Linked DNA regions of Homo sapiens. The protein of the gene in region 1 binds, or shares a complex with, the protein of each later gene. Each region holds a gene or a part of one and is shown in the gene's direction. Other genes may lie near its edges. The genes, in order: EXOSC8 and EXOSC5.

Region 1 (3,481 bases):
ACTTGTCTTCACCTCCTGTTTTACAGATGACTTTCAGTAACCTGTCCAGGTACATAAGACTCATAAGTAAAACTTAGACATAAATCTGACTCCAAAGCCTGTGCTTCTTTGACTACAGTATACCCTGTGTTATTTAACCTCAGTTGAGATTCTTCTTTCGTAAACCTGGAGTGATGTATAACAGTAAGATTTGAGAACTTGCTCCTTGTCAGGTTTTATGCCTGGGATTTAACAGGTCTATCTCATTTGGCCCTTATTAACAGTCCCTAGGAGTAGACACTATTTTCTTCCCATTTGACAAGATGAGGAGTTTAAGGTAAGAGGTTAAATAACTTGCCTGAAGTCTCTCAGCCAGTAAGTATGGCTCTGACATTTGAACTGGCTTAGTAATTGCAGAGCATTTGCTTTTTTTTTTTTTTTTGAGACGGAGTCTTGCTCTGTCGCCCAGGCTGGAGTGCAGTGGCACGATGTCAGCTCACTGCAAGTTCCGTCTCCTGGGTTGAAGTGATTCTCCTGCCTCAGCCTCCCAAGTAGCTGGGATTACAGGCGCCCGCCACCATGCCTGGCTAATTTTTGTATTTTTAGTAGAGACGGGGTTTTGCCATCTTGGCCAGGCTGGTCTCAAACTCCTGACCTCAGGTGATCCGCCCGCCTCTGTGTCCCAAAGTGCTGGGATTACCGGTGTGAGCCACCGCGCCCAGCTGAGCTTTTGCTCTTTACCACTAAAGCAGCAGTTCCTAAATCTTGCTCTATCATCTGGAGAACAAATTAAGATTCTTGGCTAGTAGTTGGGGGCACAAACCCAGTTACTATTTTTTAAAAGATCTCCAGGTAATCTTGCCGAGCAGCACTGTAGTGTAGTCCACTGTACTGTAGTGCCTTCTTATCTTGTAGAGCTATTGTGAGGATCAGCACCAATGTCCGTAGAGGCCCTGACACAATTCCCTAAGCTGATATTTGATAGAGCCTTCCATAACTGATTGCTAAATTGTCTTCATAATTTTTCAGTAGCTTCTTTCAATAGGAAACATTTCTTTGCTACTATAGGAATTTGCAGCACCATCAACAGATGCCCCTGATAAAGGATACGTTGGTAAGTTAAATGGTTTTGTAATTTTAATACAAATACTTTTAACACATTTAATAATTTTTAGTTAAGTCCTAGTTAAGTTGATGTAAAGAAAATTATTCCTAATATTCGGAAATATTTATGAATAAAACAAATTCCTCAAAAGTTTTCCGTGTGTTAGTAAAAGATAGCATAATAGCAGGATATAGAATTTCATAAATTTAACCTTTATCAAACTTGTTTGCTCAATTTTTGTTTATACATTCATAAGTTACTAACCAAGAAAATAGAATTTTGGCTGGGTGTGGTGACTCACACCTATAATACCAGGATTTTGGGAGGCCAAGACAGCAGGATCGCTTCAGCCCAGCAGTTCAAGACCAGCCTGGGAAACAAAGGAGACCCCGTATCTACAAAAAAAATCAAGTTAGCTGGGTGTGCCAGTGCACACCTGTGTCCCAGCTACTTGGGAGGCTGAAGCAGGAGGATTGCTTGAGCCTGGGAGGTTGAGGCTACAATGAACTATAATTGTGTCACTGCATTCAAGCCTGAGTGACAGAGTGAAACCCTGTTTCAAAAGAAAAAAAAAATAGAATGGAATTTTTTTAAGTCAAAGAACTGTCATTGCACACCTTTTGTTTCCATAAAGATTCTTTGCTTTATACAACTGCTATTTTTTTCTTGCCTTGGAACCATCTGTTCTTTATGGTAGGAACCAACATTTTTTTTAAATGAGAAAAACAGTTGGATGTTAGCAGAGGGGCTATATATACTTCAGTTACAGATTGAGGTATTTTGAAAGATACCAGGAAAACTCGTAAAGGATTTAGAATTGAGGTCTAAAATAGATTTTTTAAAAAGGCATATGGGGGAAAAATGTCAGAAAAATAGAAATTTCATGGCTGGGAGTCTTAGAGAGACCAAACAGAATATAACTATAATGTTACAATGTATTCTACTCAGAAGAGCCTGTCCATGGCCACAGTTGCCTTTACTGTGGATTGATAATACCTTTAACACTTCAGTAATCCATAAATTGAAAAGTTTAGGCCGGGCATGGTGGCTCACACCTGTAACCTCAGCACTTTGCGAGGCTGAGGCGGGCGGATCACGAGGTCAGGCGATCGAGACCATCTTGGCCAATATGGTAAAACCCTGTCTACTAAAATACAAAAAATTAGCCGGGCGTGGTGGCGTGTGCCTGTAATCTCAGCTACTTGGGAGGCTGAGGCAAGGAAATCTCTTGAACCTGGGAGGTAGAGGTTGCAGTAAGCTGAGATCGCACCAATGCACTCCAGCCTGGCAACAGAGCAAGACTCCATCTCAAAAAAAAAAAAAAAAAAAAAAAGGTTTAGTTCATAGCTGCAGAGTGTTTCTTTCAGTTCCTAATGTGGATCTACCACCCCTGTGTTCATCGAGATTCCGGTCTGGACCTCCTGGAGAAGAGGCCCAAGTGGCTAGCCAGTTCATTGCAGATGTCATTGAAAAGTAAGAGCACCATGATAAAATTTTATTACAATTCATTTTCAGATAGTTTTGGGCTTTTCATTTACTTTGCTCTTTGTCATTAAATCAAGTTCACAGATAATTCAGAAAGAGGACTTATGCATTTCTCCAGGAAAGGTAAGAGGAATAGAGAAGCTATAAGTTCTTATTAATTCTGAAGGGATTTTTTTTTTGTGGGGGAAAGTGAACAAGGAAATTAAAACCACCAATCAAAGTAGCTTTAAATATGGATGTCTTACAGATTTTAGAGATTCAGTAATTTCTTACTCTATAATTCTCTAAATGAACCATATTGTTTATAAAAAAACAAGTTTGACTAACTTACTGCCTGTCTGGGAGCTACCTTTTAAACTGAAGTAATTTTTTTCCCCCTTAACTTTTAAAGTTCAATCATTTTTTATTCCTTATAGCAGATTATAACATTAATCATGTTAACATATGTTTATGGTGAATCCACACAGTAGATTCCAAAGTCTATTTGAAAATGTAAAACTAGGTTGATTAGAACCTAGAGAGGCTTTCCTACTAGATCATATAAACTGATACATTAGCACTGTAAAACTTAAACATTTCATGTATTATGAGAACGTGCATTTTGAATTTTAGCTAGGGCTTTCAAAACCATCTCCCTTATCTGTAACCTCCCAATGAGAATGGAAATTCCTTCTACATCTGTAGCTCCATTAAGGGAAATGGACATGTTTGTCATTTGTCAGCCTGGCAATCAAAAGCCAGCTTTCACAAAACCTGTCCACTTTCTTCTGGTTTTCTATAGAACTTTAAAAAGGTGAAGCATTTTCTTAAGGTTTTTGAGCCTTGAAAGTTATCTTGCTTGTTTAACCAAGGGTTCTGTGGTTCTTAAGTCTAAGCTAATAGCATGTTCTACCCATTAGAAGACTTTAATTT
Region 2 (3,817 bases), on another chromosome or scaffold:
AGAGAAGGTATTGTGACCCCATTTTACAGAAGTGGAAAGTGAAGCCCAGAGGAAGGCGTGGAGGATCAGCAGCAGAGCTGGAACCGGTTGACTAAAGCTGTGGTCTTTGTCTGGCTGCTAGGCCTGGAGAAGAAACACATTAGGAAACTGAGGCAGAGCCAGCTGACTCCCAACCTGTGCTCTCTTTCCACTGTGAGCTTCCTGCAGGCAGCAGCGAGGTGGCTCTTCCTCCATTGCCCTGCCAGCTCTGTCACCGGGGAGTGGCTGCTACCCAAGTTTCGGGCCTGGCTTTGCCAGTGCCTCCCCCTCGTGTCTTTGGAAGGTTTCTTCCCCTCTCTGACCCTATTTGCCAACAAATGTGTGGTACGTACTTCAGTACATACCTATTGAATATTATTATATTCCCCATCTAACAGATGAGGAGATTGAGACTCAAGGAGTAAGTCACTTGTTCAAGGTCACACAGCTGAGCAAAACTAGGTCTGGAACCCAGGGCTACTTGATCCCCGGACCACTTTTAACCACTCTGCCATACTGCCCTTCTGTGACCGATTAGTGATGTCTGCCATAGGCATCAGCCTGGTGGAGGGAGGCATGGATCTGCTCTGCTGGCCAGGCCTACAGTAGAAACTTCTTAGGCTGGGCGTGGTGGCTCATGCCTGTAATCCCAGCACTTTGGGAGGCCGAGGCAGGTGGATCACCTGAGGTCAGGAGTTTTCAGACCAGCCTGGCCAACATAGTGAAACCCCATCTCTACTAAAAATACAAAGATTAGCCGGGTGTGGTGGTGGGTGCCTGTAATCCCAGCTACTCAGGAGGCTGAGGCAGGAGAATTGCTTGAACCCAGGAGGTGGAGGTTGCAGTGAGCCGAGATCACACCATTGCACTCCAGCCTGGGCAACAAGAGCGAAACTCCATCTCCAAAAAAAAAAAAAAGAAACTTAACCATTTCCTGTGGTGCTCAGCTCCTGGCCTGTTGTCTGAATGCCGCCTGCATGGCATTGGTGGATGCAGGTGTGCCCATGCGGGCTCTCTTCTGTGGGGTCGCCTGCGCCCTGGACTCTGATGGGACCCTCGTGCTGGATCCTACATCCAAGCAAGAAAAGGTAGGTGTGAAGACCAGGGTGGCTGAAGGGCAGAGGCCAGACAGCTGCCCGTCCCTTCCTCCAGGCCTCGCTTCTCTACAGACAGTCGGCTCATGCCACCTCAATCCCACTTAGCAAGGGCTGCTCTAATCATCATGGTTCATTTAGCAGCAAGTGCTGGAAACCCAGCTCAGACTTGCTTAATTAGGAAGGAAATGTGGGGCCGGGAGCGGTGGCTCACGCCTGTAATCCCAGCACTTTGGGAGGCTGAGGTGGGTGGATCACCTGAGGTCGGGAGTTCGAGATCAGTCTGACCAACATGGAGAAACCCCATCTCTACTAAAAATACAAAATTAGCCAGGTGTGGTGGCGCACGCCTGTAATCCCAGCTACTCAGGAGGCTGAGGCAGGAGAATCGCTTGAACCCAGGACGCGGAGGTTGTGGTGAGCCGAGATCGCGCCATTGCACTCCAGCCTGGGCAATAAGAGTGAAACTCCATCTCAAAAAATATAAATAAATAAACTAGAAAGGAAATGTATGGCCAGGTGTGGTGGCTCACACCTGTAATGCCAGCACTTTGGGAGTCTGAGGCAGGCAGATCACCTGAGGCTGGGAGTTGAAGACCAGCCTGGCCAACATTGCAAAACCCTGTCTCTACTAAAAATACAAAGGTTAGCTAGGCATGGTGGCACACATCTGTAATCTCAGCTACTCAGGAGGCTGAGGCAGGAGAATCACTTAAACCTGGAGGGTGGAGGTTACAGTGAGCTGAGATCGCACCACTTCACTCCAGCCTGGATGAAAGAGTGAAACTCTCAAAAATAAAATAAAATAAAACCAGGACTTTAAACACCATCAGGATGTCCTTGCTTCACTTCTCGTCCCTGCCTTTCTCTGCACATCAGCTTCATTCTTTCTGGCCAGCACCTTTCCTGAGGCTGGGACTGACCCCTTAAGCTCCATTTCCATCCTAGGAGGCTCAAAAGCAAACGAGAAGAGAGTTTTCCTCATCGGCTCAGGTGCAGTGTCCTAAGCTCAAGTTATTCTGAGTTTTCTGCCCAGTGCTATAATGGTCCCCTCTAGTCAAGAAGACGGAAACCACTTGGAGGGTTTCAGATGGAGGGAGTTAAATGCAGGGACTTTGTAACAACAGTGTTGAGGAACTAGAGGAGGAAAAAGGAAGCAGGAGTGACACCCAGAGATGAGAAACCCCTCCCAGACCTGGACTGAACCTGCGAGCCACCTCCTGTTCTGTCGTGTTGGAGACATCATCTCAATTGGTTCTGGATGCACATAGCATGTCCTGCTTCTGCCCTGGCCACTGAGGTCCAGAACCCACCCCACCTCCATGGCTGTCACACAGCCACAGCCATCAGCACCTGCCATTGTCCATGAGGACCAGGGTGCTGCTTTTCTTCCATTCTCCCACCTCATTACTGATGGAAACTAGCTGGTAAGGGAGTCTGGGAAATACAGCTTGCTGGCTTCCAGCCCCTGTGGGACAGAGCATGGAAGGGGGACTGGGAGGCCGAGAGGTACCAGATAAGTGAGTGGCACTATGGCTAGCCCCTTGGGGCAGGAATACTGAGCTTGGAAGCCCCTGTCAGAACCACGTGGTTGGAATAAGGGGCATGGAGTACAGTTCTACAAAGGAAAGGCAGAGGGCTATACCCAGGGAAGTAGGGAAGGGGTAGCGTAGACAAAAAATGGCTGCGCTTGATGCTTGATAGGTGAGCGCCTGGCTATGGAAAGGGAGAGGCCTGGAGGCCAAGGGTCCGGAGTCCCCTCAGTGGGACTGGCTGCAAGTGTGTGGTGGGAAGGGGAGCGTTGAGACAGGGTCTCACTGTCGCCCATGCTGGAGTGTAGTACGATCACAGCTCACTGCAGCTTCAAACTCCTGGGCTCAAGCAGTCCTCCCACCTCTGCCTCCTGAGTAGCTGGGAACTCAGACATGCACCCCCACACCCAGCTACCTTTTTTTTTTTTTTTTTTCTGAGATGGGGTCTCCCTCTGTTGCCCAGATTGGTCTTGAGTTTCTGGCCTCAAGCAGTGCCCTGCCTTGGCCTCCCAAAGTGGTGAGATTATGGTCATGAGCCACTGTGCCTGGCCAAAGGACTGGCTGAGATTTTATCTGAGGGGAAGGTCCTAGGTCCCCCACCGCCTTCTACCCCTTGTCCCTAGGAGGCCCGGGCAGTCCTGACCTTTGCCCTGGACAGCGTGGAACGGAAGCTGCTGATGTCCAGCACCAAGGGGCTCTACTCAGACACTGAGGTACCAGCATGGGGATGAGGGGAAAAGCCAGAACCTTCCTTCCCACTGACATACGGTCTTGTCCCAACTCTGCCCTGGATTCTGAGAGGCTTCAGGAGAGCCTCTTAAATTTCTTCTTGTAAAAAGGGAGTTTTCAAACTTTGTGGACCCAGAAACCTTTGCGGAAATGTTTAAGGGAAGCCCAATTTATAACACAGGCAAAAAGAGGATGAGCTCAGTTTGAAGTCAGAAGAGGGCATGTGATGGTCCCCCAGCTCCCAGCTCAGAGTGGTGAGCCATGGGAATTCCAGGTCTCAGGCTAAGGGGCAGAGCCTGGAAACTCTTGGACATGACTGTCTGCAAAAGCATGTCCAACCTGGACCTCATGAATCTAGGAATACATGGCAGTGAAGACTGGGAGTCTCTTGATTCCATGGCTCTTAGATTATTTGGGCTGAAGGGGACTGTGGCTGTAAAATCC

The links.
Region 2: EXOSC8 (region 1) and EXOSC5 share a complex: the UniProt entries of both Homo sapiens proteins name them as parts of the RNA exosome core complex.

What each region holds. Positions count from the first base shown.
Region 1 is NC_000013.11:37,003,469-37,006,949, forward strand, and holds part of EXOSC8 (exosome complex component RRP43), read left to right. Parts: intron 1-1,047; coding exon 1,048-1,093; intron 1,094-2,451; coding exon 2,452-2,557; intron 2,558-2,646; coding exon 2,647-2,692; intron 2,693-3,481. UniProt on the Homo sapiens protein: Non-catalytic component of the RNA exosome complex which has 3'->5' exoribonuclease activity and participates in a multitude of cellular RNA processing and degradation events.
Region 2 is NC_000019.10:41,387,054-41,390,870, reverse strand, and holds part of EXOSC5 (exosome complex component RRP46), read left to right. Parts: intron 1-965; coding exon 966-1,106; intron 1,107-3,267; coding exon 3,268-3,357; intron 3,358-3,817. UniProt on the Homo sapiens protein: Non-catalytic component of the RNA exosome complex which has 3'->5' exoribonuclease activity and participates in a multitude of cellular RNA processing and degradation events.